Homo sapiens: one gene and its partners. The protein of the gene in region 1 interacts with the protein of each later gene in a pairwise test. Each region holds a gene or a part of one and is shown on either strand. Other genes may lie near its edges.

What was found.
Region 2: the proteins of SFT2D1 (region 1) and TBRG4 interact in binary tests that used the Homo sapiens proteins (3 or more experiments, as listed by UniProt).
Region 3: the proteins of SFT2D1 (region 1) and PNKP interact in binary tests that used the Homo sapiens proteins (3 or more experiments, as listed by UniProt).
Region 4: the proteins of SFT2D1 (region 1) and MIEF2 interact in binary tests that used the Homo sapiens proteins (3 or more experiments, as listed by UniProt).

The regions. Positions count from the first base shown.
Region 1 is NC_000006.12:166,339,534-166,346,955, reverse strand, and holds the start of SFT2D1 (vesicle transport protein SFT2A), read left to right. Parts: upstream 1-4,410; 5' UTR 4,411-4,474; coding exon 4,475-4,537; intron 4,538-7,422. UniProt on the Homo sapiens protein: May be involved in fusion of retrograde transport vesicles derived from an endocytic compartment with the Golgi complex.
Region 2 is NC_000007.14:45,108,685-45,116,620, reverse strand, and holds the start of TBRG4 (FAST kinase domain-containing protein 4), read left to right. Parts: upstream 1-4,923; 5' UTR 4,924-4,951; coding exon of another isoform or gene 4,952-4,978; intron 4,979-7,333; 5' UTR 7,334-7,377; coding exon of another isoform or gene 7,378-7,383; coding exon 7,384-7,794; intron 7,795-7,936. UniProt on the Homo sapiens protein: Plays a role in processing of mitochondrial RNA precursors and in stabilization of a subset of mature mitochondrial RNA species, such as MT-CO1, MT-CO2, MT-CYB, MT-CO3, MT-ND3, MT-ND5 and MT-ATP8/6. May play a role in cell cycle progression.
Region 3 is NC_000019.10:49,864,577-49,872,219, reverse strand, and holds the start of PNKP (bifunctional polynucleotide phosphatase/kinase), read left to right. Parts: upstream 1-4,643; 5' UTR 4,644-4,751; intron 4,752-5,002; 5' UTR 5,003-5,015; coding exon 5,016-5,166; intron 5,167-5,774; coding exon 5,775-5,821; intron 5,822-6,793; coding exon 6,794-7,093; intron 7,094-7,643. Other genes in the region: AKT1S1 (proline-rich AKT1 substrate 1), read left to right, coding at 331-408, 504-673, 2,160-2,303. UniProt on the Homo sapiens protein: Plays a key role in the repair of DNA damage, functioning as part of both the non-homologous end-joining (NHEJ) and base excision repair (BER) pathways.
Region 4 is NC_000017.11:18,255,740-18,263,667, reverse strand, and holds the start of MIEF2 (mitochondrial dynamics protein MID49), read right to left. Parts: upstream 3,007-7,928; 5' UTR 2,931-3,006; exon of another isoform or gene 2,533-2,930; coding exon of another isoform or gene 2,507-2,532; exon of another isoform or gene 1,955-2,506; coding exon of another isoform or gene 1,941-1,954; intron 955-1,940; coding exon of another isoform or gene 948-954; coding exon 801-947; intron 583-800; coding exon 420-582; intron 1-419. Other genes in the region: FLII (protein flightless-1 homolog), read left to right, coding at 4,978-5,040, 6,649-6,759, 7,071-7,142. UniProt on the Homo sapiens protein: Mitochondrial outer membrane protein involved in the regulation of mitochondrial organization.

The DNA of each region.
Region 1 (7,422 bases):
GCAGAGGGCAGTTAAGGGGTAGATTTTCTTTATTTGCATCAAGGCCATTTGTTAATCACTGCAGAAGAATTGGTTGCAAACAAAAAATGGAAGCTTTATACTTTTTCCAGTCTATGCCCCTGCCTTACCTAGCCCAGACACTACATCTGAGGAGTTGAGATTTACAAACATTTGGGAAGTTTTTGCCCTAGAGTTTTCTGTACATTTTAGTAGATAAAGGGGATATTCCAATAAGGAGAAGGTATGTGTTTCGGAAAGTACTTTTCTACTCCTAACAACAAACGCCTCAGAATTTGAATTTGAAGTCCCACTGCCCTGGGGGACAAAGGTCCTCTGAGTCAGAAGCCACTAACCAGATGATCCAGCAGCAGGACTGAGGGTACCAGGGCAAGCACCAGCCCATGCCATCACCCACACAGAGCCCCAGGTATGCTTGACCATTGAGGGCCAGGAGGTTAACTGTTTCCTGGACACTGGTGCGGTCTTCTCAGTCTTACTCTCCTGTCCTGGACAATTGTCCTCCAGATCTGTCACTATCTGAGGGGTCCTAGGACAGGCAGTCACTTGATACTTCTCCCAGCCACTAAGTTGTGACTGGGGAAATTTACTCTTTTCACATGCCTTTCTAATTACGCCCGAAAGCCCCACTCCTTTGTTAGGGAGAGACATTCTAGCAAAAGCAGGGGCCATTATACACTAGAATTAGAAGGAAAAAGGTTAAATATACAGACTCTAAGCATGCTTACCTAGTCCTCCAAGCCCACGCAGCAATATGGAGAGAAAGGGAATTCCTAACTTCCGAGGGAACACCTATCAAACATGAGGAAGCCATTAGGCCCCCCAAATTCTCTTTACCTCTGAATCTACGTCCTCTGATCCCTGCCTAAAGATAATTTTGTGGGGAAGAGGATTTGCTTGTGTCTCTCCAGGTGACACTCAGGTGTCTGTGTGGGTGCCCACCAACCATCTGAAGATCTATCACGAGCCACGGCATCTAGTGGACCCACATGTAGAGTACAGTGCGAATTGAAGGTTTGAAAAGCCTCGATTTGCTTTCTCTATGCCTTCTGTTAATCAGAAAAGGCCTGTTTCTCATTATCAGTGGCCTCCCGGCTACAGCCACAAAAGTTTTTGCTTCTGTTTCAGTAGATTTACTAACGTGGGGGTGAGGGTATGCTTGTGTTTTTGCAGGAGATGAACAAACCGTGTGGATACCCTCAAGATGTGTACGACCATGGAATGGGAGACTGGAGGTACCCATGGATCCCAACCTTGGACCGGGTTCCCCCAGTGTGAGCCATGAGCCAGTTGAATCTGAATGCGAAGAAGGAATGAGGACCGACCGGAGTCACGATGCTTAACGGGCCAATGCTTTCTGACTCAGCTCCTCTCTACCCTGAATATGAGAGACCCTAACAGTTAGACAGGAATATCGTCACCCCTATTCAGCATGAAGAAGTTACAGAAGATGGACCTTCATCCTTCTGCAACCCCTAGGATTAAGGGTCTTCTTGTAAAAGGGAAAGGGGAGATATGTGGGAAGCATTCAAACCAGAGCCATGCTAGTAATAATGATAGCTAGTAATAATGATATCTTCTCTTTTACAATAAAGAGAAGGGGGGCATGCTGGGAAAAAGCTGAGTGTTGGGGGGAAACTGAGGCAGGGCTTGCATAATGTCCTCTGGAATGTGTCTAGACTTGCTGGCTCCTTGCTTCTAGCCTTCCTAGGCTCCTAGGCACCTATTCCCATTATCTCAAGTAGCAGAACATGTTCCATATAAATGCTAAACTGTCACAGCTGTAAATCATGTGCTTAATGCAACATGACCTCCACATTCTCACCACCTGTTTCTTAGTTGGATTACCAATAAACACTGTGGGCTCCCAGAGCTCGGGGCCTTCACAGCCTCCGCAATAGCAATGGCCCCTGTTGTCCCACATTTCTCTCTCAAACTTTTTTCTCAATCTTTTGACTCTGCTGGACTTTGTCACTCCCACAACCTGGTGTTGGGTCTGATCACCCCAACAATTTTGTGCATGTCCTTGTGTTCAGGAGTCATTGGCTCTTGAAAAAACTATGTGGCCAGGAAGCAGGAAGAGCTAGGAAGTAAGGTTTTTTTGTTTGTTTTTTGAGACAGAGTCTCACTCTGTTGCCCAGGATGGAGTGCAAACGAGCGACCTCAGCTCACTGCAACCTCCACCTCCTGGGTTCAAGCGATTCTCCTGTCTCAGCTTCCCAAGTAGTTGGGACTACAGGCGCCCGCCACCATGCCCAACTAATTTTTGTATTTTTGGTAGAGACGGGGTTTCACCATATTGTCCAGGCTGGTCTCAAACTCCTGACCTTGTGACCCACCCGCCTTTGCCTCCCAAAGTGCTGGGATTACAGGAGTGAGCCACCGCGCTCGGCCTATACTTGAAAATCTTGAAAGCAGTTATGTCAGATATGTGAACCAGAGAAGCCCATCTTGAATAGCGGCTGGGTAAAATGAGGTTGAGACCCACTGAGCTGCATTCCCAGACAGTTAAGTCATTCTAAGACACAGGATAAGATAGAAGGTCAGCACAAGATACAGATCATAAAGACCTTGCTGATGAAACAGACTGCAGTAAAGAAACCGGCCAAATCCCACCAAAACCAAGGTAACAAGAGAGACCTCTGGTCGTTCTCATTGCTACACTCCCACTAGCGCCATGGCAGTTTACAAATGCCATGGCAATATCACGAAGTTAGCCTATATGGTCTAAAAAGGGGAGGCATGAATCCACCCCTTGTTTAGCATATCATCAAGAAATAACCATAAAAATGGGCAACCAGCAGCCCTGGTAATAGACAGCCCTGCTCTGCCTATGGAGTAGCTATTCTTTTGTCCTTCTACTTTTTTTTTTTTTTTTTGAGACGGAGTCTCGCTCTGTCGCCCAGGCTGGAGTGCAGGGGCGCGATCTCGGCTCACTGCAAGCTCCGCCTCCCGGGTTCAAGCAATTCTCTGCCTCAGACTACCGATGTTCCTCTACTTTTTAAATAAACTTGTTTTCACTTGCCCTGAATTCTTTTTGCGCAAGATCCAAGAACCCTCTTTTGGGGTATGGATCCGGACCCCTTTCCCGTAACACTTACGGACATACTCTCTTATTCAACAGAAACATAGTTTTATTCTATAGATTTTACAATCTATTTTCTGACCTTTTAAAGTTAAGGACATAAGGATAAGACTTCTCATATTAGTATGAACAGGCCACATAGAAATATCTTCTGCCTAAAGGAAAAGGATGCTGAGCATTGGACCGTTTCATCACAAGAAGGCGCGACTTGCTTTCCTAGGGTTCCTGTGGTATTTGTTTTTATCTAATTGAGTTTAGATAAAATCTCTACTGAGGCAGTAGGATGGACAATGAAACTTTTTGAGGATCCACCTTTTAACTGAAAGATTTTAGGGAGGAAATGGAGTGGGCAAAGTAATCAAAAGAACAGGCATTCTCATTACCATCTTACCAAGCCTAGAAGCAAACAGAAGAGCAAAACCTATCACTTAATGACTTCTGGAGACCATATTAGACAGGCAGCCCTGATTTTTAATCTCCTTTCTTAGCATGGTGGAAAATGAGAGAGAGAAAAATGCCACTTCCCCATTTCTTAGTGTTTGTTCATCCAGCACGAGCCGGAGAACAGTAAACGCTTGTTCAATGGTTTCACTGTTCACACAAAACTGGAAAAATGGGTTGCATTAGCTATTCCTTTTATAAATAAGATTTCACTCTTTCAAACTCCTAGCTGACCAGTGAACTGAGTAAAGAAATAGCTCTCACAAGGGCAAAGGAGTGAGGCAGCCTCTTGCTATTTCTCCTGAGACGGTCTGAAATACAGCTCCTCGCTTTAATCCTGAGGCAGGTGTTTGTGTCTCCGGATGAGGACACCCAGCTGGGAAGGCTAGCGACGCCCCCAGGGCCACCTCATGGGTGGCAGGGCGCTCTTCGGAGCACGGCCACCTGCCCGCAGGAGCCCTCCGCTCTCCGATTCCAGGCGAGGGGAGGCGCATTCGGGGCCTCGACTTCTGGGAACCCGGGGTGCCGCGGACCCGCCCAGCAAGGCCCCTCGCGGGGCCCGGAGGACGCCAAGTGCAGGGTTCAGTGGTCGTGCCCCAGTCGGGTCTACACTCAATGGCTGTGCGCCAGCTGTGGGCAGGGGGTCCACACCCGCGCTGTGTCCCCGCGCGTTACCACGGCGCACCTCGCGGACAGTGGGAAGGGATAGCCCCACCATCAGCGCCCACTCCGCGGACTTCACGGACCACTACCGGGTCCGAGAGAAAGGCTGGTGAGCATGCGCGCATTGCTACGGCGGCCGCGCTGACGCACAGGAAGCGGGCGGGACCGGACTTCCGGCTGGTCTGTGGGGTTTCGGGTTCGGGGTTTCCTGGTGGGCGTCAGGGGCAGGCAACAGAGTGGCGGCCGCTACGGCCCTGTAACAGGGCCATGGAGAAGCTGCGGCGAGTCCTGAGCGGCCAGGACGACGAGGAGCAGGGCCTGACTGCGCAGGTAGCGAACTTGCGCCCTCGTCCAGTCCCGGGGCTGCCCGCTGGCCCCGGCCGCACTGAGGACCGGCCGAGCGGGTGGGGTGGGTGCGAGGCCGGGGGTCTGGGACTCCTCTGCCCGGCTGGTTGATTTAGGAGGGCTCCGCCTGCTTCCTGGGTAGAATTTGAGAACTTTCCAGTTTTCCATGCGGTCTACTTAAACCCACTTTGAGGCCCCCCCCCGACTCTCCCATCTGGCCTTCTGACTTAGGAATCCGCTAACGTCTGCCCTCGCTTTCCCAAATAATCCATCGCTCCCACGTACTATTTGGTTTTCTGAGCCTGGTGCGGGGTCTGGCCTCGGGCTGTGCAGCGTAAGTAGCTATGCAGGGCATTTATCCTGCAAGCTGCAGTGAGCCGAGACCCTAAAGCTTGTTGCATCTGTTTGTCTTTGGAGGTAAAGGTGGTGTTATGTGTGTGTTTGCTGGGGGGTGGTCTTTTGGAAATAGGGAGACTGGAGGAAAAATAAACAGGACATTGGTAAGTGAAATAATATTGAATTAAAATTTTTCTGTTAAGGCAGTGAGCCCTGGTAAGAGATTTTTTTTTTTTTCTTAATAAAAGCCCTTGTGTCTGCGCCTTACCAGCGAGACTTGATAAGGGTTACTTCCTCCAGCAAGAAGGTTAAAAGTAGCAGTGGAGCAGGAACTGCGGTGTAAGTTTTTTTGTTATTGCATGCGATTATATTGCACGTTATTGTGTGCTGTCGCAGAAGTTGGACGTTTAAAATTGAATTGTATTTCATAAGGATCTTCTATTTGTCTCTCCTGACTTCCTTGTCATTATACTTACTCAGCACTTGGTGTGGGTAGAGTTCTGGGCTACAGTTTTGGGTTCAGAGAGTGTAAGACAAGTATCTGTTCTCATTGCACTCTGTAACTCTGTATATTACCACAGCCACATGTGGCCAATGAATTTTTTTTTTTTTTTTTTTTAGATGGAGTCTTGCTTTGTCGCTCAGGCCTGGAGTGCAGTGGCGTGATCTCGACTCGCTGCAACCTCTGCCTCCCGGGTTCAAGCAATTCTCCTGCCTCAGCCTCCTGAGTAGCTGGGATTACAGGCACCTGCCACCATGCCCTGCTAATTATTTTGTGTTTTTAGTAGAGATGGGGGTTTCACCATGTTGGTCAGGCTGGTCTCGAACTCCTGACCTCAAGTGATCCGCCCACCTTGACCTCCCAAAGTGCTTGGATGACAGGCTTGAGCCACTGCGCCTGGAGCAATTAAATTTAAATTAATTAAAATTAAATAAAATTTAACATTCAGTTCCTTAGTCACAGCAACCACATTTCACATGTTCAGTAGGCACATGTGGTTAAAGGCTACTGTATTAAACAGCGCAGATACAGAACATTTGCATTGCAGAAAGTTCTATTGGACAGTGCTACTCTAAACTTTGGAGATGCAAAGGTAATATCACTTATCTTGAGCCCACTGTCTAGAGGGGAGAAAGATATGTGGAGAAGTAATCAATCAAAGATTAGAGTGACTGGCTGTATAGACAAGTGCTGTGAGTTCAGAGGAGGTGATCGTTCATTAACAAATATTCAAGTTCCTGCATATGTTTGACATTGTTCAAGATGCAGGTGTTAATAACAGTGACCAGTGCAAATACCTCTTTCACATGGAACTTAAATTTTAATTGGAGGAAACAGTGAATAAACAAGTATATAATGTGTCAGACAGCCACAGAAAAAGTCAGAGCAGGTTGAGGAGGTTGGGGTTGCCATATTACTTAGATAAGGCCTCCCTGCCAGGGAGTCATGTGAGCACAGCTCAGAAGAGCTGCTGGGATGTCTGAGCATCCTGTGAATAAAAGCCTCCAAGGCAGATACAGAGTCCCAAGTGGTGTGTGGTCAGCATGTTCAGGGCCAGTAAGGAGGCCAGAGGGGCTCTAGCAGCGGGGCAGAGAAGAGGGACAATTGTAGAAGAAAAGGTGAAGCAGGAAGGGGGATTCTCAATTGTGAGGGTTCTCATAGGCCATAGAAAGGATTTTAGCTTTACTCTGAGTGTGATAGGAAGCCTTTGGGTTTAGAGCAGAGTGGTGGTGTGACCGACTTGGATTTTAAAGGATCACTCTGGCAGCTCTGTGGAGAACAAACTGTAGAGGCAATGTTAGAAGCCCAGAGACTGGGCTGGAGACAAGTACAGTTGTCCTGGCAAGAGATGACTGTGGCTCAAATCAGTGATAGAAGTGGTTTAAAGAGCAAAAAAGCCTGTTTAAAAAACAAAAAAGTGGTCAGATTCTGTAAATGGTCTGAGTGTACAGCCAGCAGGCCACACTGTTGACGGATTGGATGTGTGAGAGTGGGAGGAGGCAAGGATGCCTCATGGCATTCGACCTGAGCATCTGGAGAGGTGGAGTTGCCATTAAGTGACTGTGGGAGGAGCAGGTTCAGGGAGGAAAATCATTTCAGTGTGGACGTGAAGTCTGAGATCCAGGTAGCATCCAAGTGGAGATGTGAGGAAAGCAGTTGGACGTAACACTGTAGAGTTTGTGGGAGGAAATAGGAGAGAGATGAGATCGTCAAGATGAGGTCCAAGGTTTGACCTCTGGTTTTCTCTAGGTGTGTAGAAGTTTAGAGGATGAGCAGAAGCCGGCAAAGACAGCTGAGAGGCGTGGCGAGAGAAGGAGGAGGAGAACCAAGAGAGAAGGATGCCCCAGAAAGTGAGGGAAGAGAGTGCTTTAGGAAGGGGATGGGACCCAGTACTGTTGATGGGTCTCAGAAGTTAAGAGCAGATTACCCGTGGAGGTTATCAGTTGTCACTTCCACGAGAGCAGTCTTGGTGGCTGGATGGGGTCAGAGGCCTGATTGAAGTCAGGGGAGAATAGAAAGAAGATGGAGATGG
Region 2 (7,936 bases), on another chromosome or scaffold:
AGCTCATATCAACTGTGGTTTGATTCCAACTGGAGGGAAGGTGAATAGACAGGAGCAGACAGAAACAGGGTGGTCAAGCATCCCAGTTTGCCTGGGACTTGAGGCGAGGAAGGGTAGGGGAGCTTCCCAAGACATGAGACTTTCTATGCTAAAACCAGCATGGCAAGTGGAGAAGTTTCAACATGTGTTTTGGAGGGGTCAAGTATTCAAACCACAACAGACGCTAACTACTTAGAGTTAGCACAGACCTCACAGGTTAAGGGCTCAGTCCCACAACACTGCCCTCACTTCAGGTGCCAGTCACAAGTAGTGGGTCCCAGACTATCCACACTTCTGTTTGACTTGGCTACAAAGCAAGGTTTCCCATGACCTGCTCTTCAGGTTTAGTAATTTGCTATAAGAGCTCACAGAAGTCAGAGAAACATTTTATCTACTGCCTTATTCCATCTGGGCTGCTGGAACAAAATACCATAGACTGAGTAATTTATAAACCCTAGAAATGTATTGCTCACAGTTCTGGAGATTGGGAAGTCCAAGATCAAGACACCAGCAGCTTCAGTGTCTGGTAAGGGCTCTCTCCCTCATAGAAGGTAACTTCTTACTGTGTCCTCACATGGCAGAAGGAGAAAGGGACAAACATGCTCCCTCGGGCCTCTTTTATAAGGGCACTAATTCCATTCACGAGGGCTCCATCCTCTTGACCTAATTACCTCCCAAAGGCCCCACCTCTTAATATCAACACTTTGCAGATTAGACTTGAACATACACATTTCGGAGGGACACAATCAGATCATAACATCTATGTTTACTAGTTTATTACAAAGCATATTTTAAAGGATACAGATGAACATCTAGATTAAAAGGGTCTTAGGGGCCAGGCACGGTGGCTCACACCTGTAATCCCAGCACTTTGGGAGGCCGAGGCGGGCGGATCACGAGATGAGGAGATCAAGACCATCCTGGCTACCACGGTGAAACCCTGTCTCTACTAAAAATACAAAAAATTAGCCGGGCATGGTGGCGTGTGCCTATAGTCCCAGCTACTCGGGAGGCTGAGGCAGGAGAACGGCATGAACCCAGGAAGCGGAGCTTGCAGTGAGCCGAGATAGCGCCACTGCACTCCAGCCTGGGCGACAGAGCGAATCTCCATCTCAAAAAAAAAAAAAAAAAAAGTCTTAGGGCCAGGTTCCAAAGGAAACTGTTCCTCTAATCACAACACTTCTGGAAGAATCTCAAGCATCAGAGCTTCTGTTCCCATGGGGTTTGGGAGGTGACACCTTCCCAGCATGTGGATGCATTCACCAACTTGGAAGCTCTCTGAACCCCATTGTTTAATAAGTTTTTATGAAGTTTCATTACCTAGGTATAATTGATAAAATCATTGGCCATTAGTAATGACAGTCAAAAGAAATGTTTTTATATGAGGAATATGAGCTTCCTCTAAATTATCAGGCCCAAAAAAAGGCATGAGAAAGAGACAGCAGTCACATCTCACTTCCTCCCTCTTGCTGAATAATCATCTTTTGAAGCTGCTTGCTATGTGGACTCTAGACTGACTGCCCCCCAAGTAGCTATAAATTAACCTAACAATACTGCATGCTGCACAACATAACTCATACCCTATCATTCAACAATGTATAGCCATCACTAATCAATGTTATTTCTGTAAACCAATGAGAATTCCTGACAAACAACTTTTTATCTGCCCCATGCCTAGTCCCCTTTTTTACCTTTAAAAACCTGCTTGTAACAAAGGCTTAATGAAGCTCATATCCCAGGTTACTTGCATGTGAGTCTTCTGGGCAGCTGTCTTCATTTTGGTTCAAATGTAAACTCTCCACTTTTATTAATTTTGCCTCCGTTTCTTCTTTTAGATAAACTGTAATCAAATCAATCTCCAGCCTCTCTCCTCTCTCTGGAGGTTGAGAGGTGGGGCTAAAAGTTTCAGCCCTCTAATCACATGGTTGGTTTCTCTGATAACCAGCTCCCATCTTCCAAAAGCCACTTCATTAGTGGCATAAACTCAGGTATGGTTAAAAGGGGCTTATGATGAATAACAAAAGATGTCACTATCATTCAAGAAGTTACAAGTGTTTTACAAATGCCCATCAATGATAGCCTGGATAAAGAAAATGTGGTACATATACACCATGGACTACTATGCAACCATAAAAAGGAATGAGATCATGTCCTTTGCAGGGACACAGATGGCGCTGAAAGCCATTATCCTTGGCAAACTAACACAGGAACAGAAAACCAAACACTGCATGTTCTCACTTATAGGTGGGAGCTGAACAATGAGAACACATGGACACAGGGAGGGGTACAACACACACTGGGGTCTGTCCATGGGACAGGGGGAAGGGAGAGCACCAGGATAAGTAGCCAATGCATGCAGGGCTTAATACCTAGGTGATGAGTTGATAGGTGCAGCAAACCACCACGGCACACGTTTACCTATATAACAAACCTGCACGTCCTGCACATGTATCCTGGAACTTTAAATTAAATTAAAATACACATACACAAATGAAAAACATCAGGATAGCAATTAGCTGGGGTGGAGGGATAAGAAAGAAGAGGAAACTCTCAGAAAATTGCAACAATATTGGTAATATTCTATTTCTTAAGTGGAGTAATGGGTTCACGGGTTTCTTTTCATAATTCTGCTTTGTAACTTGAGCATATTTAAATTTATATATACACTATATATATTATGTATATGTAGCAAACATTTTATAAATACAAATGATATTATCTTTATAAAATGCCTTAATGAAAACCTAAAGAAAAAAGTTACAAGGGTTTTAGAAGCTCTATGCAGAGACCACATATATATTTCTTAAGTCACAGGTGGCTTTTAGTATACTCAGTGTTGTGCAACCATCCCTATTATCCAATTCCAGGACACTTTTACCATCTCAAAAAGAAACCTCAAACCCATCAGAAGTCACTCCCTATTCTCCCCACCTCAACATCACATAGGTGACTCTATCAATTCACCTACTCTGGACATTGCAAATATAAATGGAACTATACAATATGTGGCCTCATGTGTCTAACTTCTTTCCCTTAGCATGTTTTCAAGGTTCTTTCCTCAACAAAACTCCATTAGTTTGTCTAAAGCTTTTCTTTTAACAGATCTATAAATCTGTTGTAATATTGTCTTTTGACAGACAACTTGTGAAGGATTTGGAGTAGAATTTGTGATAAATACATGGAATCTTAATTAACTGTTAACAGAAAAATCAAACTCTGTAAATTACTTAAAGAGGTTTATTCAGGGCCAATGAGTGACCACAGCCCCAGGAAAATACAAACCCAAAAAGCCTTAAGTGTTCCCGAGGCAGTCAGATTATAGTTTGGTTTTATACATTTCAGGGAGCCAGGGGTTACAGGCAAAGACATAAATCAATGTGTGGAAGGTATACACTGGTTTGGCTCCAAAAGACAGGATGTCTTGATGTGGGGGGTTTACAAGTTATATGTGGACTCAAATACATAGATATATACACGATATATGATTGATTGATAGATAGATAGATAGATCTCTTGGTAGGGGTAGATAGGGTCTCCCTATGTTGCCCAGGCTAGTCTTGAACTCTTGGCCTCAAGTGATCCTCCCACCTCAGCCAGCTTGACCAAGAGATTTTTTAATTTGCAACTGGTTAAAAGAGTGAGGCTCTGTGTAAAATTTGGAGTCAGCAGAAAAGAATGTTTAAGATAGTATGCCAGAATCAGCCACAATACACTGGGTCAAAAAAGACCTCTTCAGCAAGATTGATGGTCTGCAAGCTTGACTTAACCCTTGCCTTGCACGGCCTTAGGTCTTGTTTATAATTTGGTATCTTACTACCACAAAGTCTGTTAGTCTTATGATCTCTACTTTAACAAGGGGTGTTCAACCTCCCTTTCCAGAATGGCTGGGAACTCAGTTTTTAAGGTTTCTCTGGGGTCTCCTTGGCTAAGAGGAGGTCCGTTCAGTGCTTGGGGGGCTTACAATTTTATTTTTAGTTTACAAACACAAACAAACGTAATTATTTATTTTTATGTTTTTTGTTTTGTTTTTTGCGACAGAGTCTTGCTCTGTCAACCAGGCTGAGTGCAGTGGCAAGATCGCTGCTCACTGCAACCTCCACCTCCCGGATTCAAGCGATTCTCATGCCTCAGCCTCCCTAGTAGCTGGGACTACAGGTGCGCCCTACCACGCCCGGCTAATTTTTTTGTATTTTTAGTAGAGACGGGGTTTCGCCATGTTGGCCAAGCTGGTCTCGAACTCCTGAACTCAAGTGATCCGCCCACCGAGGCCTGGGATTACAGGCGTGAGCCACCGTGCGTAGCCAAGTAATTATTAACTCCACAGAAAATAAAAGGCTGTGCAGGAAGTAAAAATTAATCAAGTCCATATATAGACCTCAGATACATTTCGTTTGGGCTATCCTGCACTTTACTTTGTAATTAAACACCACTATTTAAAAATCAGGAAAATTGCACATAAAAATCCAGCTGCAAGTGGGCGCTCTGGAGTTCCCCAGTCTCCACTCACTCGTCCTCCCAGCCCCCACAGGCCTCAACGTCGCCTATCCCACTCCACCAGCCCAGTCTTCCACCGCCCTAGGAACTCTCCTACGCCTACGCAAGCAGGGAGGGATAGGGTGACAGCACCGACAACAAAGGGTCGTCTCCCGCACTCCGTATGAGGATGGCGTACTGGTCGGGGGGCAACCGAAGCCTTTCTTCCTAGGTTCTTTATCTTTTCTAAGTTTCCCATGACCTATCGCTCCGCTTGAGCCCTCAGCAAAGATGTCACCCGCCGAAAGGTGTGGCCGGAAGCTGGAGGCGTGGCTTCCGGACGTGCGGGGCGAGGCTCGTCTCGTTTCCGCCGGCGCTCCGAGTGACGTAGGGAAGCGCGCCGCGCACCTCATGGTTCCGGGGACAGTTAGGGCGGCGGATGGAGGTCAGCGGTGGTGCTCGCTGCGTAGGTCTTGTGGCACGGGGAGAAGGGGCGGCTGATCGTGGGTTTCGAGTGCACAACACAGGCGTGGCTGGGAAGGTCCTGGGATGCGGTGGAACTGGGGAGCAGGCTGGGACGCGGTGGGATGCCGTGGGCCTGGCCGTCTGCTCGTTCCGTGCTGGCTTGCCAGTGCGCACGCTTCCTCTCTAGCCCGCGCGGCCAGGCCTGGAAGACGCCGCCCCTGTTGACCGTCCATGACCCCAGCGAGCCAGTTTTCGTGACTTAGTGCAAGTTGTTTTCTCTCTGCATTTTAGAACTAAAGTTTTGGATTGCTGTTTGCCTAAACTCAAGTCTGGCTCCTGGGCTTCCGTTTACTCGGCTAAACTGCTCTTAGGGCTCTTAAAAAATTGGAAAGGCGGCCGGGCGCGGTGGCTCACTCCGGTAATCCCAGCACTTTGGGAGGCCGAGACGGGTGGATCACTTGAGGTCATGGTGAAACCCTGTCTCTACTAAAAATACAAAAATTAGCCAGGTGTGGTGGCGCGGGCCTGTAGTCCCAGCTATTTGGGAGGCTGAGGCAGGAGAATCGCTTGAATCCGGGAGGCTGAGGTTGCAGTGACTCGAGATCGCAGCATTGCACTCCAGTCTGGGCGACAGAGCGAGACTCCGTCTCAAAAAAATAAGTCGGAAAGATTTCTACACTGTGCTTAGGCTCAGGAAGTGGTAGATGTTGCGTTTGGGCAAATACTCCGACTCTCTGATCTCTCTCTCTTTTTTTTTTTCTTTAAGTGGAGTTAGACTAAGCTTTTTACAGCTGCTTTAATCCCCTCATATAAAAAGAAAATGTGCTGGCCATATACCAAGTTCCAGGAAGTGGAGAAAGATCAAACGTACATTCTGCTTTGGCAGAAATGAGGCCTAGGTGAACGTTTTATCTTGCCCTTGTCGCATGTCTTCCCTGGATCATGTAATCACCGTAGGGAGCTAGACTAGCTGATAGAATTTTTTTTCTTTTTTTTTTTTTTTGTGACAGAGTCTCGCTCTGCCACCCAGGCTGGAGTGCAGTGGCGCGATCTCGGCTCACTTCAAGCTCTGCCTCACCCTCCCTAGTAGCTGGGACTACAGGTGCCCGCCACCACGCCCGGCTAATTTTTTTGTATTTTTAGTAGAGACGGTGTTTCACCGTGTTAGCCAGGATGGTCTCGATCTCCTGACCTCGTGATCTGCCCGCCTCAGCCTCCCAAAGTACTGGGATTACAGGCGTGAGCCACTGCGCCTGGCCGATAGAATTGTTAAAAGCAACATCAAGGCTATATGTAACACATTGCTGGAGATGGCAACATTGAGTTTGGCCTTGGAAGGATGAGATGTATTTTAAAGGGTCTTATAGGGGGAGGAGGAGACCCAGATAACAAGCCCTGTAAGGTGAAGTGGAAGTGCAAGGCCTGTTTAAAATGGGGCCTTGTGTTGCTGGGAGGCAGAAAAAGCTAAGACTGAGAAAATCATTCTGGGCCATGTTATGAAGTGCTTCTTATTATTGGTTCAGAATTTTTGCTGTTAGAAATTTGGTGGGGGGGTTTTAGTAGGCTAGTGATGTAATCTACCTTGGTTTCGAGAGGCTCACACCTATGTCTACAGTGTTAAAATATATCCACAGAGGCTTTGGGAATGTGAATTTTTTTTTTTTTTTTTTTTTGAGATGGAGTCTCTCACCCAGGCTGGAGTCCAGTGGTGCAATCTCAGCTCACTGCAATCTCCGCCTCTCAGGTTCAAGCAATTCTTGTGCCTTAGCCTCCCAAGTAGCTGGGATTACAGGCGTGCACCATGATGCCCAGCTAATTTTTATATTTTTAGTAAAGATGGGGTTTCACCATGTTGGCCAGGCTGGTCTCAAACTCCTGACCTCAAGTGATCCACCCGCCTAGGCCTCCCAAAGTGCTGGGATTACAGGCGTGAGCCACCACGCCTGGCCAAGCCCGTAATTTTTAATCCTGGTTACCCTTGAAATAAAAAAATAAAAAAAAATTAATGCTGTCTAGGTCGTGTCTGCAGAGATGCCATCATTTAGGAGGCCTTGGGCAGGACCTGGGAATCTGAATTATTGAACCACATCCTAGGTGATTTCAAATTACAAGCAGGATGGAAACCCTCCCACCCAGGCTGTAATGTTCCTGAGTTTTGATATTTGATGGCATTCTGTACTGAAACAAAAATCCTGTGAGACTTTTGCTTTAGAAAATACTATCACATACCTATGGATTGTCAAGAAAGACTTAGTCTGATTTTACAGATAGAGTGGCTTTGACTATTTCATTTCTCAAGTTTGTGAGTCAGGAACTGCCCCTGTAGTAGCCCCTTCTCTCTCCTTTTTCTCTTCAGGGTTTGGAATCACTTGCTAGGAGTCTTGTCTCTCTGCCACCCAGGACATCATGGCAGCTCACCTGGTAAAGCGATGCACGTGCCTCCTGAGAGAAGCTGCTCGTCAGGCCCCTGCCATGGCTCCAGTTGGCCGACTGAGACTTGCCTGGGTAGCCCATAAGACTCTGACTTCCTCAGCCACCTCACCCATTTCCCACCTCCCAGGTTCCTTGATGGAGCCGGTGGAGAAGGAACGAGCATCTACTCCCTACATAGAGAAGCAGGTGGACCACCTCATCAAGAAGGCCACAAGGCCAGAGGAGCTCCTGGAGCTACTTGGTGGCAGTCACGACTTGGACAGCAATCAAGCAGCAATGGTACTTATCCGGCTCTCTCACTTGCTGTCTGAGAAGCCAGAAGATAAAGGCTTGCTCATACAGGATGCCCACTTTCATCAACTTCTCTGTCTGCTCAACAGTCAGGTGGGTGCCGGAGTGTGGTCTGAGAGCATAGACAAGAGGAAAACAGCCAGAAATGCTGGGGTCCACAGCAGCCAGTGCTTACCAAGCATAGACAGGGGCCTTGCATCTCTTGTGATATTTTTTATTTTTTTATAAATTTCAA
Region 3 (7,643 bases), on another chromosome or scaffold:
TCCATTTGTGAAACAGAGGTCATAGTCATTGCATGTTTCTCTAAGGCTGTGTTTTGAGTCACATTGTCCCGAACAGATCGTAGAGGTTTCATGTTAGCAGCCCGTTGTGTGCAGCTGAGAGGGTGGCAGATCCATAGAAACTGGGTTGGTTTTTGCCGATGACCAGGCAGGCTGCTAGAGGAAGTTGTTTTTGAGGTGAAGGAAATGGGTCTCAGAAGCTTCAGGGAGGTGGAGGTGGTGGCTGTGGCAGTGGCCGTGGCTGAGGAGGAGGACACATGGAGCATGGCTAGGTGCTGCCTGGCCTGGGCCTCTAACTCAGGTCATCCACAGGGCTCTTTGTGATGGATGAGGACGCCACCCTCCAGGACCTTCCCCCCTTCTGTGAGTCAGACCCCGAGAGTACAGATGGTGAGTGTCCCAGGCTGTTCCCCTCCCGACCTGAGGGCAGGCACACGGCCGACACAAAGGCAGGGACAGAAGCTGAAGTCCACCCTCTCTTTCAGATGGCAGCCTGAGCGAGGAGACCCCCGCCGGCCCCCCCACCTGCTCAGTGCCCCCAGCCTCAGCCCTACCCACACAGCAGTACGCCAAGTCCCTGCCTGTGTCTGTGCCCGTCTGGGGCTTCAAGGAGAAGAGGACAGAGGCGCGGTCATCAGATGAGGAGAATGGGCCGGTGAGGGGCAAATGTGGGGAGGTAGGGAGGGCAGCTGGAAGGGCTCTGAGCCGCCTCCTCCAGGAAGCCCTCCAGCATGGATGCTGCTTTCCACCCATAAGCTAACTGAATCCTCCCCTCAACCTCAAGAGGCGAGTTCTTGGACACGAGCCTTGCAGTTTTAACAATTGCAGCCTTACCATGTGTCCTAGTGCCTTATAGAGAAGGCCTCTCCTTTCCAGGAGCGTCTCTATTTATAGAACACCTGCTCTGGGCAAGGCACAGGTGTTTTGGCATGCCCTCCAGTGGAGAAACTGAGGCTTGGAGGGTTCAGATCACCTCCCATCCCCACCCTGCACATTCCTAGCCCTTTGCAGAATTTGTCCCACCCCCTGGTCCCCTGTTCACCCCTTGTAGCAACCCCTGTTTGAAGCTCCTGGGCTGGGCTCTGCTGGCCTAGGTGGGTCCTCCTCACCCTTCACTGAGCCTCCCTGAAGCAGAGGGGAAACTGAGGCACTGAGGGGACATGTGACTTCCCTGAGAGGCAGAGCTGGGACTGGAACCCAGGTGTGTTTCAGGAAGGAGCTGTGGGCTTTGAGGGAGGAGGCCTGGGTCCCCACAGTCCCCCCCTCAAGCCTCAGTGTCCTTATATGCAAACCAGCAGTCACAGTGGTGACCTTTTCTGTGCATCCTCCCTCAATGAAGCAGTGAGCACTGAAGACCAGGAACAGGGCCTGGTGCGGGCGGGGTCCACCTGCTGCTGCTCTCTGTGCTTGCGACTCATGGCAACACAGTTAATTGAATGCTCTGGCCTCTTGCGTGCTGTGCCCGGGGGCTGGTCTCCCACTGGGCTCAGGTCCAGTTCCTGATCTGGGTCTCCGGGTCCCATCCTGCGAGGGGACAGGCCCAGCTCCGGGTGACGGGGGCTGTAGTGGAGGCAGTACTAGGTGCCAGAACTGCAGGCTCCTTGGCGGGGGCTGACACAGCGAGGGATCTTTTCTGTAGCGCAGTGGCCACATGATAAGGCAGTAACAGCTGATTATCTCAGCCCTCACAGAGACCCTGTTATCCGCCCCATTTTTCAGAAGGGGAGACTGAGGCCTAGGGAAGCAAAACCTCTTGCTCATAGTTTGTCAGCGGCAGAGGTCTGATTGGAACATGACTGAAACCCCAGCCCAGATCCTCAGACATGAGACGGTGCACTCAGCCTTAATGGCTAGCAGGCAACAGCACTTCCACTGTGTAGGAAGCAATGTCCTAGGCCAAGAAGGGGAGAGGGAGAGGGGCAGGTAGGCTTCGTGGAGGAGGTGTCTGAACCGGGTAGAAGGGTTCCTACGTGGAGCAAGACGGGGAGGGGCACTGCTGGCAGTGGGCATCGCAGGGCACAGGTGGCAGGGCAGGGACGTGCTAGAAGTGGGCTTGGAGCCCGGGTGCACCCCTGGACCGCGTGTGGGTGCAGGGGGATTGCCCTGCCGGCGCTGACCTCGCCCCGTCGCCGTCCCCGCAGCCCTCTTCGCCCGACCTGGACCGCATCGCGGCGAGCATGCGCGCGCTGGTGCTGCGAGAGGCCGAGGACACCCAGGTCTTCGGGGACCTGCCACGGCCGCGGCTTAACACCAGCGACTTCCAGAAGCTGAAGCGGAAATATTGAAGTCCAGGGAGGGAGCGCCCCGGGCCGCGTCCGCCCCGTCCCACACTACGCCCCCGCCCCACTCCCGGGGCCTGCTAATCTGAGGCCGATCCGGGACCGGCCTCCTTGCGTCTCCCATTCCCAAGATTGTCCCGCCTCTGCCAATCCCCGCCGTCCTTCCAGCCCACGACCTGCCGCGCCGAGGAGCGGCATCTGTCCCGTTTCCCGATTGGGTCTGTCGTCTCTCTCCGCCTAGCGACAGATTCCTTCTATTAAGGGATTGGCTCGCTGAGTTCTAAGCTCTAAATGGGTCAACTCCTTTGTTTTCCGCCTAGCGACAAGGGATTTGCTCGCACGGCATTGGCTCCATCCCCTAGTCGCTGGACAGCTCTTTTTTTGATTGGCTCAAATCCTGTAAAGGGCTTGACCAGTCTCTACATAGTCACCGTCCGCTTTTCCTGAGTTCTCCCTCCCAATTGGCTCCAGCTTCCTGGGGGCGTGGCCAAGCCCTCCTCTTCCCAGAATTGGCCCGGGGCCTTCAATTTACGTTCTTTACACTACGGGGACTGGGGTCGTCTTTGCCCACGTCCCGACAACTTGTTCCCTGACCCCCTCAGGGATGGCCCCAAACTGTCCCTGCCTCTGGCACCCCCTTTCATTGGTTCCATCCATCCCCACAACAGCCTGCCAATCGAAGCCCGTCCCTGCATCCAGGATGGTACCAGCTCCCGCCCCTCGCCCCCCACCTCCACAGGTGCCTTAAAGGGCCCTCGTCCACCCAAGGTGGGGGGCAGGGGCCCTCACTCTCCGGCCCTGGTGTGGGGGAGAGAGTGAGGGGTTGGGGGATCGGCAGTTGGGAGGGGCGCTCTGAGATTAAAGAGTTTTACCTCTGAGATAAATGTGAAGTGTGTTGTGAGTGTTCATTCAACATTTTCTGAAACCGAATGGCAGCGTCTGATTATCAGTGAATAGCTGGGGGTTGGAATTACTGTGCCCATTTTATTTACTTTTTTGAGACAGGGTCCCACTCTCGCCCAGGTTCAAGCGATTCTCCTGCCTCAACCTCCCGAGTAGCTGGGATTACGCGCCACTGCCGCCCGGGTAATTTTTGTATTTTCAGTAGAAACAGGGTTTCATCATGTTGGTCAGGATGGTCTTGAACTCCTGACCTCAAATGATCCACCCGCCTTGGCCTCCCAAAGTGCTGGGATTACAGGCGTGAGCCACGGCGCCTGGCTTTGTGCCCATTTTATAGATATGAAGACACAGGTTCATGGGGTGGAGGAGAGCATCCCAGTCTTATGTGACCATGGAACCCAATCTTGAGGAGGTGAGTGTTGGAGACAGAGCCCACATATTCACCAGCAAAGCCAGGAACTCCAGCCGGGAGTCTTCTATTATAAAAGGACTGGAGCAACTGGGCTTGGTGCCTCACGCCTATAAGCCCAACACGCTGGGAGGCCAAGGCGGGAGGATCACATGACACCAGGAGGTCGAGATCAGCCTGGGCAGCACAGTGAGACCCCTTCTCCAAAGGGAAAAAAAAATGGCTGGAGGTTAGAAAGCAGGTGGAACCTCGTCCGAAATTAGGACTAGGTAAACGTAGTCCCACCAGACCACTACCGAAAGAATGCTAACACTAAATAAGACTTAAACGGATCTGAGCACTTTGGGAGGCCGAGGTGGGCGGATCACGAGATCAGGAGATCGAGACCGTCCTGGCTAACACGGTGAAACCCCGTCTCTACTCAAAATACAAAAAATTAGCTGGGCGTGGTGGCGGGCGCCTGTAGTCCCAGCTACTCGGGAGGCTGAGACAGGAGAATGGCGTCAACCCGGGAGGCGGAGCTTGCAGGTGAGCCGAGATCGCGCCACTGCACTCCAGCCTGGGCGACAGAGTGAGACTCCGTCTCAAAAAAAAAAAAAAAAAAAGACTTAAACAGGGCTCACTACCACCCATTTTTTAAAGCTTTTGTCACGTGTTAGCTCCTTTAATCGTCATGGTAACCCCACGAAGCGGAAACGATTATCCTTTTTATAGATGAGGAAACTAGAACATCGAGGGTGAAGCCAAAGAAGGACTTAGGGGCGCTGTCGGGGGCGGAGGTTTCCTCGACTGACAATGACCATCAGATGGGAAAAAAATCTTCCTCCCTGGGATGAAAATTAGAAGTCAAGGTGGAAAGAGGCAAATCTGCTAACGGAGGATCCAGTCCCCGCTACCGGCCTGAGCCTCGCGTTGCAGCAAGAGAGATGAAGGTCAGGGCTGCCGAGAGACCCTGGGGGCCGGGAGTCGGGGAAGGGGCGTGGCTGCTGTGGGAGGAGGCCAGGCCCCGCCCCCCACCCACGAGGGGACGAGTCATTTCCGTCCGCCGAGGAACCGACCGCCGCCGGCCGGGTTGCAGGCGGGGCACCTCGGGCAGGACCTCCCTGGTCGGAAGTGGCCGTGAGCCCAAGCCGCGGTCCCGGGTGAGTACGGGGCGGGGCGGAGGCATGTGCGAGGCTCTCTGCCTGTACGCTGGAAAGTGGGGATTGCAACTCGGGGAGGGATGGAGCACGCGTCGTCGCCTGGGAAACGGGTCGACCCGCGGAAGGCGAGCGGGTGGGACTTCCGGAGCAGTTAATGGTGGGGAAACTTTCTAGTGGATGTGGGAGGAGGCGGGACTTCCTGCAGCAAATTGGGGCTGTGCGCCGCTCAAGCCCGTTTACCTGCTCCCCAGGCCGGCACCCAGGATGGGCGAGGTGGAGGCCCCGGGCCGCTTGTGGCTCGAGAGCCCCCCTGGGGGAGCGCCCCCCATCTTCCTGCCCTCGGACGGGCAAGCCCTGGTCCTGGGCAGGGGACCCCTGACCCAGGTTACGGACCGGAAGTGCTCCAGAACTCAAGGTGAGCGGGGCCTGAGCTGGAGGGGGTGTGGCCTGCTGCAAAAGCGGGAACAATCCAGAGGGACGCTTGGCTGCTACGCGGGATTGCAGTGGTGCAGCCAGCCCCGAAGTCGGAAGGTGCTCTCTAGGGAGTACAGGAAGATAAAGTTTGTGCTTGATTTAGAATTAGCTAGATCCTTTGGGGGAGAGGGGATCGAGCCGATTTAGGGAGGATGTTCACTGCGCGGATGATGCTCAGGCCATCGGGAAATCCAGAAACAGGCGACGACCTTCGTCAAGAGAAAAATGATCCTGTGGAGAAAAGTAAATGTCGCTAGGTTGGGATGGATGGTAACAGGCCAAGCCCCGGACCTATATCTAGCCACATTTTTTGTCAAGGAGGAAACCAATTCTGTAGAGAAAAGTACCTCCCTGTCCCTTGCAAGGACCAGTGTCAGGCAATCCTAGTGCCACTATCTGGCTACTGCATGTCAAGGAGCCAATCCCATGTAGAAATAAACTGCCTCTTACTCCCTGGATGCTATAGCCTGAAGCAGGCCACACTCCCCAGAAATGAGGGACCCAATCACACAAGGATGCAAATCCTGACTCCACCCCTCCAATCCTCAGTGGAGCTGGTCGCAGATCCTGAGACCCGGACAGTGGCAGTGAAACAGGTATCAGTGCCTCTGCAAGGGCCAGCAAGGCCTGGGGATGGGATTTGGGGAGGAATTGCAAGCCGTCAGTGAAGGGGTACATTAGGAAAATCTGATTGGGGCCGGGCGTGGTGGCTCAAGCCTGTAATCCCAGCACTTTGGGAGGCCGAGGCGGGCGGATCGCTTGAACCCAGGAGTTCGAGACCAGCCTGAGCGACATGGTGAAACCTGTCTCTCTAAAAAATTAGCGGGAATGGTGGCGCGTCCTTGTAGTTCCTAATCGGGAGGCTGAAGCGGGAGGATCCCTTGAGCCCAGTAGGTCAAGGGTGTAGTGAGCAGTGATCACCACACTGTACTTCAGCCTGGGTGACAGAGCGAGAACCTGTCTCAAAAAAAGAAAAGAAAAAATATGGCTGGGAGAGAAGGGGATGTGTCCAGTAAAGAAAGAAGTGTTGCCTGTTTCAGTGGGGTGGGTACCTGTCCAAGACCTTAGAAATTGGACAAGGCGGCCAGGCGCGGTGGCTCACGCCTGTAATCCCAGCACTTTGGGAGGCTAGGCGGGCGGATCACCCGAGATCAGGAGTTTGTGACCAGCCTGGCCAACATGGCGAAACCCCATCTCTACTAAAAATACAAAAATTAGCGGGGCATGGTGGCGGGTGCCTGTAATCCCAGCTACTCGGGTAGCTGAGGCAGGAGAATCGTTTGAACCCAGGAGGCACAGGTTTCAATGAGCCAAGATTGCACCACTGCACTCCAGCCTGGGCGACAAAACAAGCCTATATCTCCAGGGGAAAAAAAAAAAAAAAAAAAAAAAAGATTCGGACAAGGCTGAAAACCTGTAACCGTTCCAAAGCCCGTTCCAAAGTGAAGAGGTGGGGCCTAAGGGTCTGATAGTGGTGGAGAAGGGCTGATTTTTCCGCTGGGTATTTGATTGGAGGAAGCTCCCGGTGGGGGCGGAGCCAGTCCCAGCTCCTCCCTCTCTTTCTGCAGCTGGGAGTTAACCCCTCAACTACCGGGACCCAGGAGTTGAAGCCGGGGTTGGAGGGCTCTCTGGGGGTGGGGGACACACTGTATTTGGTCAATGGCCTCCACCCACTGACCCTGCGCTGGGAAGAGACCCGCACACCAGAATCCCAGCCAGATACTCCGCCTGGCACCCCTCTGGTGTCCCAAGATGAGAAGAGAGATGCTGAGCTGCCGAAGAAGCGTATGCGGAAGTCAAACCCCGGCTGGGAGAACTTGGAGAAGTTGCTAGTGTTCACCGCAGCTGGGGTGAAACCCCAGGGCAAGGTGAGGGCCACGCCGAGGGCTGAGGGAGCCGCCACAGACTGGGACCCAATCCCACGTTTGTTGCGTGCTCTCAACTTTTTAGCCTCTACTTACTTTTCTGAGAAATGGGCCTAATGATAAATGCAGGGATCGTTGTAAGCAGTTAAGCAGTGGGGAGAATGATATATGTCAGCTCCTGCGTTACCCACAGTGACCACCCAGTAATCAGCAATGACCATGACTGTCTCAGTAGGAGCTATTACGATGAGGATTTTTTATGTCCAGAGAGACTTGAGTTCAAATGCTGTTACCACCACATTCTGAGTCCCATGTGTCTCATCTCTACGATGCTGAATCCATAAAAAAAGCACGTGGCATAGTTCCTGACATGCAGTTAGCACCCAAAGCTTTGCTCCTGCTTTTATTTTCACGGTTATTAGCCCACCGAGGTGGTGAAGGCCAGGGGAAGAAGGAGGCTGGGTAAGACATTAACCCCCATTTTAAAGACTGTAATCCTGGGGCTGGCGTCATAAGGAGTAACAGGAGACAGTAAGGTTAAGATGTCGGGCCC
Region 4 (7,928 bases), on another chromosome or scaffold:
ATTAGTTAAGAAAACGCCACCGAGAACTAGCTGTGTGATGTCCCAGGGCCTCACTTTTCTCACCTGCAGTGGCACCTGAGAAGGCACTCAGTTCAGATCCTCACATATAGTGAGCTCTTGGTGACGAGTTCTCATTGCCCCAGAGTCCAACACCCTGGCGACAACAGCTTCATGCAGAGTAGGTAGGTATGTCACGCCCCTCTGGACCTCAGTTTCCCCATCTAAAGCTCCCCACCATCACAACGCTACCACCTTGCTCCAGGAACAGGGCAAAGAAACACCACCCCCATTAAATATCTGAGGAGCCCACAACCGAGAGAGAAGCAGGGACTCGCGCAGGGTCACACAGTCAGTCAGGGCAAAGCCTGGGCTGCGTCTCTTGAATGTGACACCAAAAGAGGGGAAGGAGTGCCACTCACCTGGGGCAGACGACGAGGGGGCCAAGGGCAACACTGGCTGGCTAAGGGCAGCAGGTGGAGGCCGGGGCTGCAGGTGTGGTGTGGCCTTGAGCAGGCTCAGTTCCTTCCAGCTGTCTGCCTTGGTGTCATCCTCATCCCGCGGGCTAGTGGCCCTGTCAATGAACTGCAAGCACAGTCACACAGATCAGTGTATATGAAATCTGGGCAGTCATAGCAAAGCCCAGGGCAAAGCAGACCAGCGTGCTGGGTGGAGAAGCAGGTGCCCTGGGCTCCCATGAAGGCCTTGGGCAGTCCCCACCCCTCCCCAGGGCCCCTCTGAAAAGCCCAACCCTGTTGTCCTCCTCTAGGAGCTTCAGGCATGACCCGCCCACTTGGCCTTACCCGCTTCACGGCCAGGGTGGCAATGCCCAGCACAGCAGCCCCGCCCACGCCCAGCACCAGGCGGGCATTGGCCAGGAGGAAGTCCACCATGCTGCCCAGCCCTTCGTCGCTACGCCGCTTCCCCCGTTTCTGGGAGAACTCTGCCATGGTCTGCCTGTAAGAGAGCCAGGGGTGAAGGGGCAGCTCAGGTGCAGGTGGCCAGGCTGGGAGAGGGGCTGCTGTGGACAGGTGCTCTAGCTGTCCTTATGCTGGGTAACAGAGCTGAGCCCATGAGGGGGGCTTTCTGAGAATTTCTCAGAGAAAGGGGCCACCCATCCACAGGGGAGGACACCGAGGCCCTGGGAAATCACGTAAAGTACCTGAGAAAGGGCAGGGATGGGATATGAGCTTGGGTTTTGGGGTCCCAAGCCCCCATCTCTCATGAGGAGATGAGGGAGCTGCCAAGCCCCTTCTCCCAAAGCTGCCTGGAAAGAAGCTCACAAAGGCCCTGAGGCTTGTGCAGGTATAGGAAGGGGCCTCTCTCCCTGGAGCCCACCCTCCAGGACCTCTGACATCACCAGGGTGTCATCATCACTACCCCTATGTTACAGAGCTACAGGCTGCCAGCTCACAAGTGAGTGGTAAGGTCTCCAACCCATGACTGCAAGGCCTCCAGACTCTCATCCGCCCACAGAGTCTGACGGATTCTCCCTGTGCCAGGTGCCCAGGTCCTCAGCAGCAGCCTCATCTGAAGGTTCCTACCCAGAGGGCACAGCAGCCCTCTATGATAACCTCTTCAGAAGAGCCCAAAGTCCAGAGAAGACCAACAATTTGGGGCCCCAGCCAGTCTGGGGGACCACTGGGACCAGTTACCCCCAAATCTTGACAGGGTAGCCCAAGAGGCAGAGCTACCAAGTCAGAGCACGGGCAGAGTAAGACGGCCCAAGCTGCCCAGGCAGGCCAATGCAGATGTGCTTGTCAGGGTTGAAGCCCCTTTGGCAGGGCAGAAAGGGCTGCCCAGTGCCTCTGTACAGGGGGCTCTCTGGGCCTCTCAGTCTTGGGACAATGTGTAGGTAGTGGTGGGTGATGCTTCTCAACTGCCGGAAGGCCAAGCAACACAGAAAGTAAGGTGAAGGCCTGGGCCCCAGCCTGTTTGCTCACCTGTAAGATGGCATAGGCAGCAGTGAGGGGCAGATGTGGGCAGCCTTGAAGTGTGTGGCTGGGTGGGGGCCAGCACTTGGGAAGTGGAGGCAAAGATCTCCTAGGGCCCAGTCCACATTCCTCACGTTCTGCGAGGGGGACACTGCCCTCAGGCCCTGGGAGCTGAGAAGGGCTGGGACCTTAGGACATCAGTTAGACACCAAGCAGAACTCTCCCGGGGAGGCCTGAGCAGATGACCATGAGGTCACAGCCTGCCCGGGCACCAAGGACTTCTACCTGCCCTGCCAGAGTGTGGGTGCCAGGGGCCCAGTTGCCAGGTGACCAGATGCCTGGAGTAGCTGAAGCCTGAAGCGCTGTGTGACTCAGCCCCGTACACCCGCCCATTCGCCCCAGACTAAAAATAAGACGGTCTCTGGGGCGATCCCAGGCCAACCGGGTGACCCGCCACGGCCCCAGGGCCGGTTTCAATCTCCTCATCGGTGACTCGGGGATCAATACTGCCACCCGCCCCCAGAGAGACCAGGAATCTACTTTGCAAACTGTAAAGCGCTTTAAATACTCCCAACCTGTCTAAATTGGGACTCAGCCCCATCTCTGGCGGGGTCGCGCAGGCCTCAGTCCACAGCCTTCCAGCTCCGAGAAGCAGGAAAGGGCACGGGTGGCTGAAAATAACCCAAGTTTGCGCAGCGGGGCCCTGGAGGCCGTTTGGCCTTCCCTCCTCCGCCAAACCTGCCTGCCCTGGGCCCGGGCGGAGCAGGCCGCGCAGCAGCCCTAGGTGGGCGGGTGACGCCCCGTTCGCAGGATAAACCAAGAGACCGAGAGGGGAAGGGGGCTGGGCTAGGATTCGAACGCTGCCCTTGGTCCCCCAAAGGTCCCCTCCCCGCCTTCCCCAGCGGTGATCGCGGGCCACGCCCCCGATCTGCGTTCCGTCGCGCGCCAAGCCCCGAGCCCGGTGACCCTGGGGGCCGCCCCGCCGCGCTCCAGCTGTACCTGCGTCGCAGCTTCCGCACGACGACCGGAGGAGGCAGCGGGACCACGGCCCCGGAGCTCAGACCAGCCTGGGAATGGAACGTGAAGGACCCTGGAACCCAACGACTAGGGCCCCGGGGGCAGCCGCGGACTTCGCAGCACGCAGACAAGCAGGCCCTAACTCCAATCGGAGCGCTCGAGTCCAGCGCACAGGTGCCAAAATACTGCGCGGTTCAGCCAATGAAGGGCAGGTCCCGCCCCCCAGCCGACAGCCGCACTCCCTCTGGGGCGGGACTCCCTGACGCAGTCTGGATTTAAAGGTGCAGGGCTGCATTCCGAGACCGCGAACAGGTGACGTGACAGGCGACCCTCCAGGACGTCTGTGCGTTGTAATGTGAGCCTCCGGTGTGGAGGAAGCTGTCTGGGCCCCGTTCCTTCTGGGGACCAGGTAGAGAGGCTGCACATGGCTAGAGGCCCGGCACATCCAACCTCTTAGGTCACCTCTGCGAGAGAGTGTCTTGGTGGCCTCATTCTTACCTGTGGGCCTGAGGGGCACAGCGCCTACCCCTGCCACCTGCTCTGTGCGAGCTTGTGTGGGCCATTCTCCACCTGGGCATCAGTTTTTCTCCTGTAAAATGGGGACACTAGACCCCCTCCTCCCCTGCGAAGGATGGTTGGGCATATAACAGCTGTGGCTCATTTATTGGGGTCCTGCTATGTGTCAGCCAGGGCGAGCCCCCTTGAACAGCAAGGACCAAGACGGATGCTTCTCTTCTGGAGCCTCCCTTTGTAGGGGGGTACGAGCACAGGGGTGCTGACACTAAGTGGGAATAATAACCTGGCGCACAAAACAAAACAAAACGGAATAATAACCTGCCACTCACTGAGCGCCTGCTGTATGCTGCGAGCTACACGTGCATTCTTTGTTAATTTGCTCATGGTGACAACCTTAGAAAGTATTTTACAAATGAGGAAACTGGGTAGGGCGCGGTGGCTCACGCCTGTCATCCCAACACTCTGAGAAGCTGATACCAGAGGATCACTTGAGGCCAGGAGATCAAGACCAGCCTGGGCAACATAGCAAGCACCCCGTGTCTACAAAAAGTATAAATAAGGCCGGGCGCGGTGGCTCACGCCTGTAATCCCAGCACTTTGGGAGGCCGAGGCGGTTGGATCACGAGGTCAGAAGATCGAGACCATCCTGGCTAACACGGTGAAACCCCGTCTCTACTAAAAATACAAAAAAAAAAAAAAAAAAAATTAGCCGGGCGTAGTGGCGGGTGCCTGTAGTCCCAGCTACCCGGGAGGCTGAGGCAGGAGAATGGCGTGAACCCGGGAGGCGGAGGTTGCAGTGAGCCGAGACTGCGCCACTGCACTCCAGCCTGGGCGACAGAGCGAGACTCTGTCTCAAAAAAAATAAAAAATAAATAAAATAAATAAATTTAGCCAGGTGTGGTGGCCTGCGCCTATAATCCCAGGTAGTCGGGAGGCTGAGCCCAGGAGTTCGAGGCTGCAGTGAGCTATGATCACACCACTGCACTCCAGCCTGGGCAGCAGAGCAAGAAGACCCTGTCTCAACAAAACAAAAACAACACATGAGGAAACTAAGTCCAGAAGCAGGAGAGCTAGGACCCGAGGATCCAGGTGTCTCACTACCACCGGTCAGCCAAGTACAGGCACTTCCTGGGCCTCTGCGCCCCGGGGCCGAGGTTTAGAATCTCTCTGAGGTCAGGGCCAGCTTCATGTGCTGCAGCAGCGCAGGTGACGGTGCCTCGACCAGCGGCCGTTACGGCCCCTGCCCTGGGGCGCTGGGACTTAAGCCTGGAGATCGTGGAAGCCTCCAACTCCAGCACAGGGGGGGCCCGCACTCCTTGGTGCCTCCGCAGTCTTCGAACAGACGGGGAAACTGAGGCCCTAAGAGGCCTAAAGCCTACACTTCCCCGCGGAATGCGGCGGGCGCGGGCGGGTTAAAGGGGCGGGGCCGGCGCTGGCCCAGCCCGCGGCTCCCCCCAGCGCCCTCGCCCCGGCGCTCCCTAGCCCGGCGCGGCCCGGCAGCGAGAGCGGCGCCATGGAGGCCACCGGGGTGCTGCCGTTCGTGCGTGGCGTGGACCTCAGCGGCAACGACTTCAAGGTGAGCCGGGCCGGGCGCGTGCCGGGCCTCCCTGCAGGCCTTCTCTTCCGCCCGGCCCGCTTGGCCTCCGCTTCCTGTCCCGCTCGGCTCCAGGCCCTGCGTGTCCCAGGGACTGCGGCCGGGGCGGGGTGGGGCTCTCCCCTGGCCAGGAATGGACCTCCGAGGCCTCCGCCCAGTGCCTGTACGGGGAGACCGAGGCTGGGCAGGCCGGGGACGGACGCTTGGGCTCGGAGTCCCGCCGGGGGCCCGGCCGGGAGCCCCCACCCCGCGTCCGTGTTCTCGGTCTAGGCTGGATGGTGGCCTGGGGATCGGGCGAGCCTCCCCGCCCCTCTGAGGTCACACGCCCAAGCCAGGCCCTGACTCAGGGATGGCTGCCCGGCTGCCCAGGGGCGGGTGTGGAGCCGACTCATCACTGCCCTCTCCCCGCCACCGCCACCCGCCATACTGTGTGATCCTGGGCCTCTCAGATCACTTCCCCTCTCAGAGCCTAGGCTTTCTCAGCCGGTGAAGGGGCTTAAAAGTCTCCTCCTTGGACGCAAGGAGTATAGTGAGATTTGTTGGTGTGGAGAGTGTGTCAGGCCGGTGTGCCAGGTGCTGGGTGGCAGTTGTCTGAGCAGCTGCTGGACTGAGAGAAAAGGGACCGGAGCCCAGCCCTCCGCAGCCAGTGGGTGGGGCGGCGGGGTGGTTCCAGGACTCAAGAATGAGACAGGCATTGCCTGACCAAAGGGGAAGCAGAGAAAGAGAGGGAGGGAGAGCTGGCTGGAGGGTCAGCCTCACCTTCAGGGTGGGTGACTGGCAGGGTCGGCCTGGGTTGTTGGTCTGGGGCTGGGGCCGAGGAGGCAGGTTTTTCCTGCGTTTACCTGCCTGTGTACACACCTTTGACCCCAAGTACAAGTGGCTACACCACTTTTCCCTGACCCCATCCCCACCACCCTAACCTGGGGTCCCCGTTCCTCTTTGCTGAACTGGGAGAGTCCGAGTCACCAGCTGGGAATGTGGCGCTAGGGGGAAAGGAATATCAGCCGCAGGCACTGAAGGCACCTACTGCCCCAGACTTGGTGCCACAAGGGCTGGAGGTGCCGAGGTGGGCGTTCACACACCAGGGGAGTGCAGTGATGCTGGCCTGCCCTGCAGGGTGGGGAGCCACGGTCTCCGCAAGCAAGGGTTTGACCCTGGCCGTGAGTTGCCAGTGTGCTGATGGCAGGATGAGGGCACAGGTGGCGCCTTTGCAAAGGCTTGGAAGGGGGATCCCCCACCCCAGGCAGCCAGTCAGAGTGTGGAATGCTAGGTGAAGGAATTTGAGCCGAGCTAACCACAGAGCCGGATGCTGGGCTTTCACCTGAAACAAGCCAGTTTTGTCCTGGCCCTCCTGGGGCCCAGAATCCAGTAGGAGAGACAAATCTTAGGCCAACACTTTTGTCACGGGGGGGCTTAAAATTCCCATTCTATGGGTGAAGAAATTGAGGCACAATGATGAAATGACTTGTCTGTGTTCTCACAGATGGTGAGAGTTGGTTCTGTGGCTCCCCAAAGGCTCCCATGGGCTGGAGGAGCCATAGAAGGTGGTGAGCAGGGGCTCTGTGCTTCACCTTGACATCCTTCCCCCAGGGCGGCTACTTCCCTGAGAATGTCAAGGCCATGACCAGCCTGCGGTGGCTGAAGCTGAACCGCACTGGCCTCTGCTACCTGCCCGAGGAGCTGGCCGCCCTGCAGAAGCTGGTAAGGGGGTTTGGGCGGGCAGGGGAGGGTCCCTGTGGATGAGCCAGGTGGGCAGAGCCTGTGGAGAAGGCAGACAACTTCTCCAGAGAGAGGAACACCGACAGCTATGAGCAGAGCTGGAAGAAAGGGAGTGGGCACCCTGTCCAGGGAGGTGTGCAAGAAGAGGCCGGGTGAGTGAGGGAGGGAAGCTGCAGGGGTAGTTGGGCCAGTGTGGCTGAGGCCTTCCTGGATGGTGCAGAGTTGTGGAGGCAGGCAGGGACTCTGGACACCCCACCCACCCTGCTGAGCCTGTGCTCCCCATTCCGGCCCAGGAACACTTGTCTGTGAGCCACAACAACCTGACCACGCTTCATGGGGAGCTGTCCAGCCTGCCATCGCTGCGCGTGAGTGCTGGCCGGGAGGCCACCGAGCTTGGGGTTGGGGCCAAGGTCCGGTCAGGGACGTGAAGCCTGGGCTAGACACCAAGCTGGGCCAGCATTTCTGCCCACCTCCGTGTCAGGCTCAGAGGCTCAGGTGTCACAGAGGGGCCCTCTCATTAGAGGTTACAGCAGTGCCCTGTGTAAAGTAACCCATGTGGATCAGAGAATTCCATCAGGAAAAAGGTAAAGAAATCCAAAATCTTACCAGCCGTTATGGACAATAACTACAGTAATAATAGCCAAGACTGGCTGAGCAATGTTCCCACTATTCTGTTAGGATTTTTTCATATGCTCTAGCCCTCCACTAATGTTGCAGAAGAGAAACTTGGCCACCAAGGCAGATTACTTGCCCCAGGTCACAGAGCCAGGCAGTGGTAGAGCTGGTGTTGAGTGGGGTTTGGCCGGGAGCACCGTGTACCTTCTACCCAAGACTTGAACGTCCCAGAACATCAGGCCCTTGGCCAGACCCTGTAGGCCTCAACGAGGGCCATCCCATCTGAAGTCAGAGCCCTGGAGATGTTTAGGGCACAGCTTCTGACTTGGACTCTCTGAGTTCAAAGCTGGGCTTTGCCACTTCCTGGTGATGTGACTTTGTACAAATCGCTTCTACCTTCTGGGCCTCCTCTGCAAGTGCAGTGGTTGGGAGGGGCAGCAGTGACCCCGTGAAGCAGCAGCAGGGTGCCGCACAGGCATTCAGACTGGAGAAGTGGCGGGGCAGCTCCGGTGACTCCCGTTGTCACTTGGAGTCAC